3 separate regions of the Homo sapiens genome follow, and all the other regions are linked to region 2. The links come from fine-mapping of genetic effects on gene expression. A gene starts in region 2. Each other region holds a variant in brackets. All regions are shown on one strand. Distances are between the middles of the regions.

Region 1 (2,851 bases), 51 kb after region 2:
GCCCTCAAATCTTTGCAAGCCCTCCTTTTTTCTTTTTTTGGGGGGAGGGACAGGGTCTGGCTCTGTCGCCCAGGCTGGAGTGCGGTGGTGCGATCTTGGCTCACTGCAACCTCCGCCTCCTGGGTTCAAGTGATTCTCATGCCTCAGCCTCCCAAGTAGCTGGGATTATAGGCCCACACCACCCCGTCGGCTGATTTCTGTGTTTTTTGTTGAGACAAGGTTTTGCTGTGTTGTCCAGACTGGTCTCGAACTCCTGGACTCAAGCATTTGCCCACCTCAGCCTCCCAAAATGCTGGGATTACAAATGTGAGCCACTGCACCTGACTGAAAGCCCTCTTTTTTTTTTTCCCCTGCAAGCCTTCTTTTTAAAAATACCTTGTAAAAATACTTTGTATTTTTAAAAACCATACAAATGATATATACTATTCTCATTAAAAGGACACTAAAAGTTAATATGGAGTAAAAAAGGGAAAGTTGTCTTTCATTTCCCTATTCTGTTGCCCTCCCTAGAGGAAACGAGGATAAGTTTGTTCGTATCCTGGGTTTTTCTATGCAGTGTAGTATAATGTTTAAAAGCACGGACTCTGGAACCAGTCTGTCTGAATTTGAATCCTAGCTCTGCCAATTACTAACTGTGTGACCTTGGGCAAGTTACTTAGCTTCTCTGTTCCTCTCTTCCATCAGTTGTAAAATGGAGTTAATAGTACCTGTCTCATAGAGACAGTCATCAAACAAAATGATACACCTAAAGTACTTATAACAGTGCCTAGTACATAGTAAGGGCTAACATAAGTGATAATGGCAATCGTTATTTACATACATTTATATTCACATGTACAACTATGAATATATTTTAATATAAGTGGAACATTTTTCTGCATCTTGCTTTGTTGACTTAACCCTATGTCTTGGATATCTTTCCATGTCAGCATGTACAGATTCACTGAATTCTTTTTTGATGACTGCATGCCATATGCCATACCAGGACACTACAATTATTCATTTAACTCTTTCTATAGTGATTGACATTTAGGTCGTTTCCACTTTTTGGCTATTACTAACAATGCTGGTAGCAAGATTCTCTGTCATGCTGTCAGTCCTTCGTGAGTTTGTATGGCAACCTTGCTTGAAGATCTTTGAGAGTATTTGGAATCTAGTAACTATGCCCCCAAAGTGGCATAATAGTGGGTATTGCAGAAGACTCTTTGTTGGTTCTGCCCTATTTCCTTCTAAAGAAACTGCCATAGAAACCTGTGGCTGCCATGGCCTAGGGACGGTGGATTATATTCATATGAAGAAGGATCCTCTTTTGCCCTGATGCTGTTCTTGGGGGGTAATTTTAGAATTTTTTTCAGAGAGAAGTCCCAACAATTCTTGAGAAGCCCAGCTTGACCTGTTGGGTTTCCCTGTGTTTCAGATCAGTGCTGAGTCCCCGACTGGCTTGCCATCACACAAAGGCGAGTTGGTGGTTTCATTGAAATACATCCCAGCCTCCAAAACCCCTGTTGGAGGTGACCGGAAAAAGAGTGAGTTTTCTTTGGGGTCCTGGATGTAGCTTAGTCTTCTGCATAGGATCTGTGCAAGGCCGGTGCTGGCTACTGG[T/C]TAGCACTGTTGGAGAGACCAAATTGGGATGCTCCCTGGATCTGCTAGGGAGATTCCTTTACTAAGGAAGCCTCTCTGCGTTTTTTCAAACAGAAGGGAATGCCTTAGGGTTGGCATTCTTTTCTTTTTTTAGGCTATTAAATGGACTTGGTCTTGGTCCAGCTGTGGCAAGCTACTAAGAGGGCAGAAGAGAACAGAAACTTTGGGGCTGAGAAGGGTGGCTGGGAGAGGTGGTAAAGTATGAAGGACAGGAAGTTGAAAGCTGGGGAAGAGTAATTCAACATGCCAGCTGCTGTGTTAGTGACTACGGTTGTGTAGATGAGTAAAACATATTTGCTTTCCCTTGAGGAGCTTAAGTTTTTGCAAGAAAGACAGTCATGTGCTAAAAGGACACAGATATAGGAGTGGTGAATTATGTCTGGTTACATTTGGGAGAGCTTTGAAGAAGTAACATTAAAACTGGATCTTAAAACTTTACCAGACAGAAAAGGAGCAGGATGAGGAGAGAAGAGCATTTTCAGAAGAGGGGATAACATGCGCAAAGGTTTTAAAAAGGCATGGTAATGTGGGGTTGTATGTGAGTGTGTCCCTTATTTTAGTGGGACTGGAGTTCTGGTACACTAGATGTAGGTGTGGGGCTGGAGTTGGACATGAGGTGGGAGCCTGACTGAAGAGGGCCTTGAACTTAATGATAAAGAGTTTCACTTGATCCCTTGGCAATGTGTGGCCTACGTTCTTTGAAAAAATATACCTTTGGCAGAGTCACATCTAGAAGGTTTGGGGGAATCAATGAAATCCCCAATGAGGGTATGTAGCATGACTAGAGAAGAGAGGCAAGTATAGAACCAGAGAGATCAGCAACATTTTAAAGGATGAAGAGAGAAAGAAACACCAGTGAAGTAAAAGGTTATCAGGAGAGAGCTTCAAGAAGAAGGGGCGGAGGTTATCAACAGTATTGAAATACTACAGGGAGGTCAGACCAGATGAGGTCTGAGAAGACATGGCCAATTGGCATTAGATTGCATTTTCAGTGGATCAGTGAAAGCAGAAACCAGATTTCACTAGAAACTAGGCTGAGTGAATGGGCAAAGAAGTAGAGGTGGTAAGTGTGGACTTTTTTTCCTCAGGATAATTGATGGTGAAAGAAAGTAGAGACATGGAGAATAGCTTGAAGAAGAGATAAGGTTAAAGGGAGCTTTTCTTTTAGAAGTACTTTTTCAAAGAGATGAGATTAGTATATATTTAGACT
Region 2 (2,500 bases):
CACTGAGGAGAGGGCAAAGGAGTAGGAGGAAAAGCAAAAGAGTAAAATGTCATAGATGCCATAGAAAGTTTCAAGGACGAGGAAATGGTTAACGGTGTTAAATGTAGGGGAGAAGTCAAGCAAAATAAGGACCAAAAATACCTTACTTATTTATGGATTTATTGACACTGAGGGTCATTGTTTGTGTATCTCATTGAGAAGTTTCAGTGGGGGAAGGAAGCCAGACTGCTGAGAGCTAAGAAATGAATGAGAAGTAAGGGAATAAAAATTGCAATTTCACCTGTGAAGTACATTTTCAATACATTTGCCCATAAAGAGGACCTGAAGAGGGACCTCCTGTGTAGGGAGGTTCTTTTTTTAAGATGGTAGATACTTGAGCATGTTTAATTGCTGATGTGAAATGAGGGGGAGAGGGATGGGAGAGGCAGGGAGAGGAATCTGCAATTACTGGGTAGGTATAAACATTTTCAAGTCTATTGATACATATTGCTCACGTGCTTTCTAAAAGGGTTTTTAACCAACATATGCTGCTATCAGCAATTAAGACAGCTTGTTTGGTGGCTACTTTGTCATCATTAAGTGTTATTAAAAAATAAAAAATATCTTTGCCAAAGAATCTCATTATTGTTCTAATTTGCTTTTCTTTGATTACTAGTGAGTTGGATATTTTAACCAGTTGTGTCCTTGAGTGTGTATGTATGAATTTAGTCTACGCTTTTGCCCAAAACGTTTCTATTTTAGACAGACATTTATTTGCCATAAAAGGCCACAAGTCAAAGGATCAGAATGGTATTATATTTTATTTACTCAAATTAGATAGTTCATACTCTTTTATCTTCTTAGAAGTGTGAGACAATTTGACAACTTTTGACTCAGCTGAACGAAAGAGACAGGTGATTTCACCGTCTAAGAGAGTGACCAACAGATGGAAGTAAGTGGGTGAGGAGGCACGTCTAGTGTTAGACCCCTATCCTCAGTCCCCAGGCTCCCATTCCTAACCTGGAAGGACATTCCTCTTGTGTCTCAAGGCTTTGGGTCCCAGAGCTCCCTTTTGGGCTGAGTGGCCCCCTGCTAAGGAGCCCGGGGCGCTGTGCGGCCCCTTTAAGAGTCCAGCTCCTCCCCGCTCCAGGGAAAGTTGCAGCTTTTTCCGCCTCCCGGGAGGGTGAGAAGGGCCGGCTGCCGGAGCTGGGTTGCGATCTTCCCGGAGCCGGAGACCCTCCCTTGAAACCGGCACTGGGACTTCTCGATCTCTGGAGGCACCTGTTGCAAGTGACAGGTAGGTCAACAGCCAGCGGCCGGCCCCTCGCCCTCGGTCCGGTGCTCCTTCTGGACCCCCAGCTCCTTTTCGCTGCTGAAGCGCCCCCACCCCCATCTCGGGGTCGTGCGTCTTCCCTACCCGCTCTCTGGTCCCCCAATTTTTCCTTCTCCCTAGCTGACCGCGTCTCCCCTCTCCCCGTCCGCCTCTCCCGACCGCATCCCCAGGCTTGGACTCCCGTCTGCTTGGGCGGTCCCTCCCGGCCACTTTTCTTTCTCCAGGGCTTCTTCTGGCCCCTTCCCTGACCCACCCAGCACTAATGCGGTCTGTGCCCCTCTGGGAGCCGCCTCCCCTCTCCTCTTCGGCTCCCCTCGCGGGGAGTGCCCGGGCTTTTTCCCGCCAGCCCGAGCTGGTGCCCCTCCCGAGAGCTGGCCCTGGGGGCGGGGGCGGGGCCGAGCTCCTAGCGGGAACTGCGCCCTCCAAGGCGTCCAGTCACCTTTTCGTGGGTTCCTCTCACAGCGCTCGGCCGTCGAGCGGGGTCGCTAACCCGCACTCTCTTCGGACCTACGACATCGCGGCTTCTCTGGCGTTGGCCAGTCAGCCACAGGTAAAGGCTGGAGGCTGGTTGGCTGGAGTCCTGCCTCAGTGGGCTCCCTCTGCGCTTGGGGCTGGGGACCTGGCTGTGTGCTGTGGAGCTGCTTTATATTGCCGCTCTTCAAGCAGGCTGTGAGAGATCTGGTACTGGAGGAGGGTCCCCGAGATCTCAGAAGGGGCACAGAATGCTTCTGTCTCCTGTGTTGGTTTGTAATGGGGCAGAAAAAGGTGTTCCTCCAACCCTTAACATTGAATGAGGTGGGATTTGGGGTGGTGAAATCATTTGGTTAGAATTCTGGTGGCTTGAAAAGTGGTGACTTTCTAATCAAGCTTTTCTTCCCCCAGTACCCTGCTTCTTCAGGATTAGAGGACGTAAAATTCCAGAGTACTGTGCTTGGCAGGGTTGACCCTAGACCTTGTATATTTGTGGCAAAAATGAGTCTTCTGTACATCCTGGACCTCCTATATTTAACTGGCTTATTTTCTGCTCTTTAAGCTCCCCACCCCCACCTCTCATAAATCTATTAATATTGAGGTATTAATGACTTAAGACTTTTGTCGCTGTGGGAACAATGTTTAATGCAGAGACGTGGCCTTGATGAAGTTTTCTGCGTTTTTGGTTGTTTGGTTTTTAGCACCCTAGTAGAAAAG
Region 3 (2,846 bases), 62 kb after region 2:
TTAGGTCCCAGTTTCAGCTAACTAGAGGAGCTTTTCCCTTGACTTTAACCATGCCCTGGCTCAAGTTCACTCGCATATGTCCCTTTGCTCCCGACGCTGGGTCAACTCCTGATTGCTCAGTAGGTAGTCATCAATGAATGTGAAGATTTCCTCGGGGGTGACAGGTTCCATGTAGCGGTCTCGGTCAATACCCTGCTTGTCAATCAACACCATGTTGAAGTAGGAGCGAGTGAGGCGCTGAAATTGCCTAGAGAGAACAGCCCAGGGAGGTATGAGACCTTGTCTGGGCACCCATCCCCACAGGCTCTACTACCCTCTGACTTTTTGCAGCTCCACTCATGGACTAATTCCTTCCCCACCTCATCCCTGGTCCCCATTCCCTCTACTTCCTGTCTCAAGTCGCTTTGTTTTTCTGTGTTCAGATTCTACTCTTGCTGCCTCTATGCATCTAGTTCTGCTAAGCTGTCCCTTCCTCACCTCAGCTGCAACAACTTTGTTATTAACAGGCGGTGCTTTCATTGTAGGCCCCTTTAAGCAGGGCTATCACATATTGCTGTGCAGGCTGCACAGGGTGACTCCAGGGGCCACCCGCTGCAGAGACTGTGCTGTGTATGCACATCATACATGGCAGCCCTTAGGTTGATAAATACCTTCTGGTTAACTCTTCCATCTGTAGCTGCAAGTCTGCAGTCTCCCTCTGAGGGTTTTCTAGTCTCTTCTCTAACTAGGACTGAATCTTTCTGTCCCCACTGAGACTGTGCCCTAGAGGCAGGTATAGTTTCTCTATCATTTAGAGGCACTGCTCTAAAACAGAGCAGTGATGGCTTTATTGGCCCTGAATATATGTGAAGGCATTAGAAGGGTGATACTGGATAGATAATGAGAAAGACCCACTTCTTCCATCACCTGTCACCTCTAATGTTCTCTTCCCCAGGATTTGATAGATCTTACTCAGATTTCAGTGCTTAAAGATGCCTTTTGCGGCCAGGCATGGTGGCTCATGCCTGTAATCCCAGCAGGTTGGGAGGCGGAGGTGGGCAGATCACCTGAGGTCAGGAGTTTGAGACCAGCCTGGCCAATATGGCGAAACCTGTCTCTACTAAAAATACAAAAATTAGCTGGGTGTGGTGGTGCACACCTGTAATCCCAGCTACTCGGGAGGCTGAGGCAGGAGAATCACTTGAATCTGGGAGGTGGAGGTTTCAGTGAGCTGAAATCGTGCCATTGCACTCCAGCC[T/C]GGGCGACAAGAGCAAAACTGTGTCTCAAAAAAAAAAAAAAAAAAAAGATGGCTTTTGCTCCTTTGGAGACTGAAGGCAAAGAGATGAGGCCAGAAAACAAGAGCAGGGGCTTATCTGAGTCAAGTTTGGGTTTACTGTCTCAGCCCTGGCTGTGCTTCAGAGTCCCCTCAGGTGCCTTTGTAAAAGCACATTCCTAAGGTGGTTTAGGATGGGGCCTGGTCATCTGTATTTTAAGCCCTCATTTGATTCTGATGTTCTACCAAAGTAAAGAAACTACTCTCTGGTCTTACCTAATGCATCCATAAGAGTTCAAACGCAAGAAGTGCCGCAAGAGAGTAGTGTCTGATGGTTTCCCCATAGTCCGCTTTTGCCAGTGTCCTGCCTAGGGTTTCTCCCCCCGCCCCAGCCCCCCCTCCCCCCAAGTTTGGCAGCCTCCCAGCCTGGACCTGAGCTCCTCGATGATGTTGGCTGACAGCTGTTGCTCCCGGATGCGCCCCACCTCCTGAGGTGGCTGTCCCACCAGTTCAATGATGGTCACATGCCGCAAATCCAGTCCACAGGTGGATTGCTGGGAGGGAGACAGAACATTTTATGCAACAGAGCTGTGCGTTCAAACCTAAGGCTACTTGGCTGATTCCTCCTGGGACCATATGAAGCAGTGTGGGAAAGGAGCTCCTTCTCCCCCAATGATCACGCAATCACACTGTGGGGTCTACAACAACCTGTTCCCTCTGTCATTCCTGAAGTACTTGCCCCAACAGTGTTTCCTTCATTCTACTGAAACCAGTTACACAAAGTGGGGTAGAGAAGAGAAATGCAATGAGTAAATTGCAGGAACATAATCATTTAGCTTTGCATAGGTTTTAAATTACATAAGTTCTTGATGGATAGCCAATGTGATATGATAATGGCTGTTGTTTATTGAATACACAAACCTAATGCTTTGTAGACATAATCTAATCTTCACAACACCCCTCACAAGCCAGGTGGTGACAATAACATGCTGAGCCAAGATTCAAACTGAGGACTGATGCCCCCTGCCCAAGCGTGTGCTCTTTACCAATAGGCTACCTGGCCAGGGCCTTCGCTCGGTCTCCAGGATTTCTCCAAAATTGTGCCCAGTGCTCTTTTCATTACCCCTTGTTACCTTCCTTGCACTGGGCAGTGCAGCTTGCAGTCCTACCCCAGATCTCTGTCCTGCCTTGTCTTGCAGGATCACCTGCTAGCCATTTACCAGGGTGAGGTTTAAAGAGGCCTTGAATACTCCCCGGCACCCCACCTCTGTTTCATCTTTGGGCTTCCCCTCTAGTCCTTACCCTCAGAGTCACTATGCTTGCTGACAGGTTCCTTTTCTTGTTCTTACTCCCTTGCTTCCAAAGGAACTGTTGCCTTTGTCAGTCTTTTTGGATCTCTAGATGAATAAGGCCCTCTTTTTGGTCTAGACCCTCCAGGGTCCTTTTTTTTTTTTTTTTCTTTTTTTTTTTTTTTGTAAAACTGCTTCCATCCTGGGCCTCTGAATATTCACTAGGCAACTTCTAAGATTCAATCTTTAGAAGCCTCCTAAGTAGCTTTTTCTCCCACGTGGGTATCCAGCCCCTTGTAGCTCCC

What was found. PIP is the estimated chance that this variant, and not a neighbour inherited with it, causes the effect.
Region 1: its variant is the best candidate, but not a certain one, in a credible set for the expression of SYTL4 in subcutaneous fat (GTEx, PIP 0.68).
Region 3: its variant is the best candidate, but not a certain one, in a credible set for the expression of SYTL4 in nasal epithelium (TOPMed, PIP 0.59).

What each region holds. Positions count from the first base shown.
Region 1 is chrX:100,679,902-100,682,752 of GRCh38, reverse strand. SYTL4 (synaptotagmin like 4) reads left to right here. Exons shown (of 20, transcript NM_001370165.1): 17 at 1,418-1,526. Among named protein-coding and RNA genes, the nearest start is that of SRPX2, 37 kb to the right of the region's middle. The variant T/C (reference allele first, on the strand shown) is at 1,603.
Region 2 is chrX:100,730,780-100,733,279 of GRCh38, reverse strand. SYTL4 (synaptotagmin like 4) reads left to right here and starts at 1,159. Exons shown (of 20, transcript NM_001370165.1): 1 at 1,159-1,276; 2 at 1,775-1,862.
Region 3 is chrX:100,668,208-100,671,053 of GRCh38, reverse strand. It overlaps SRPX2 (sushi repeat containing protein X-linked 2), which reads right to left. Exons shown (of 11, transcript NM_014467.3): 10 at 1,685-1,806; 11 at 1-247. The coding sequence ends at 67. Among named protein-coding and RNA genes, the nearest start is that of SRPX2, 25 kb to the right of the region's middle. The variant T/C (reference allele first, on the strand shown) is at 1,238.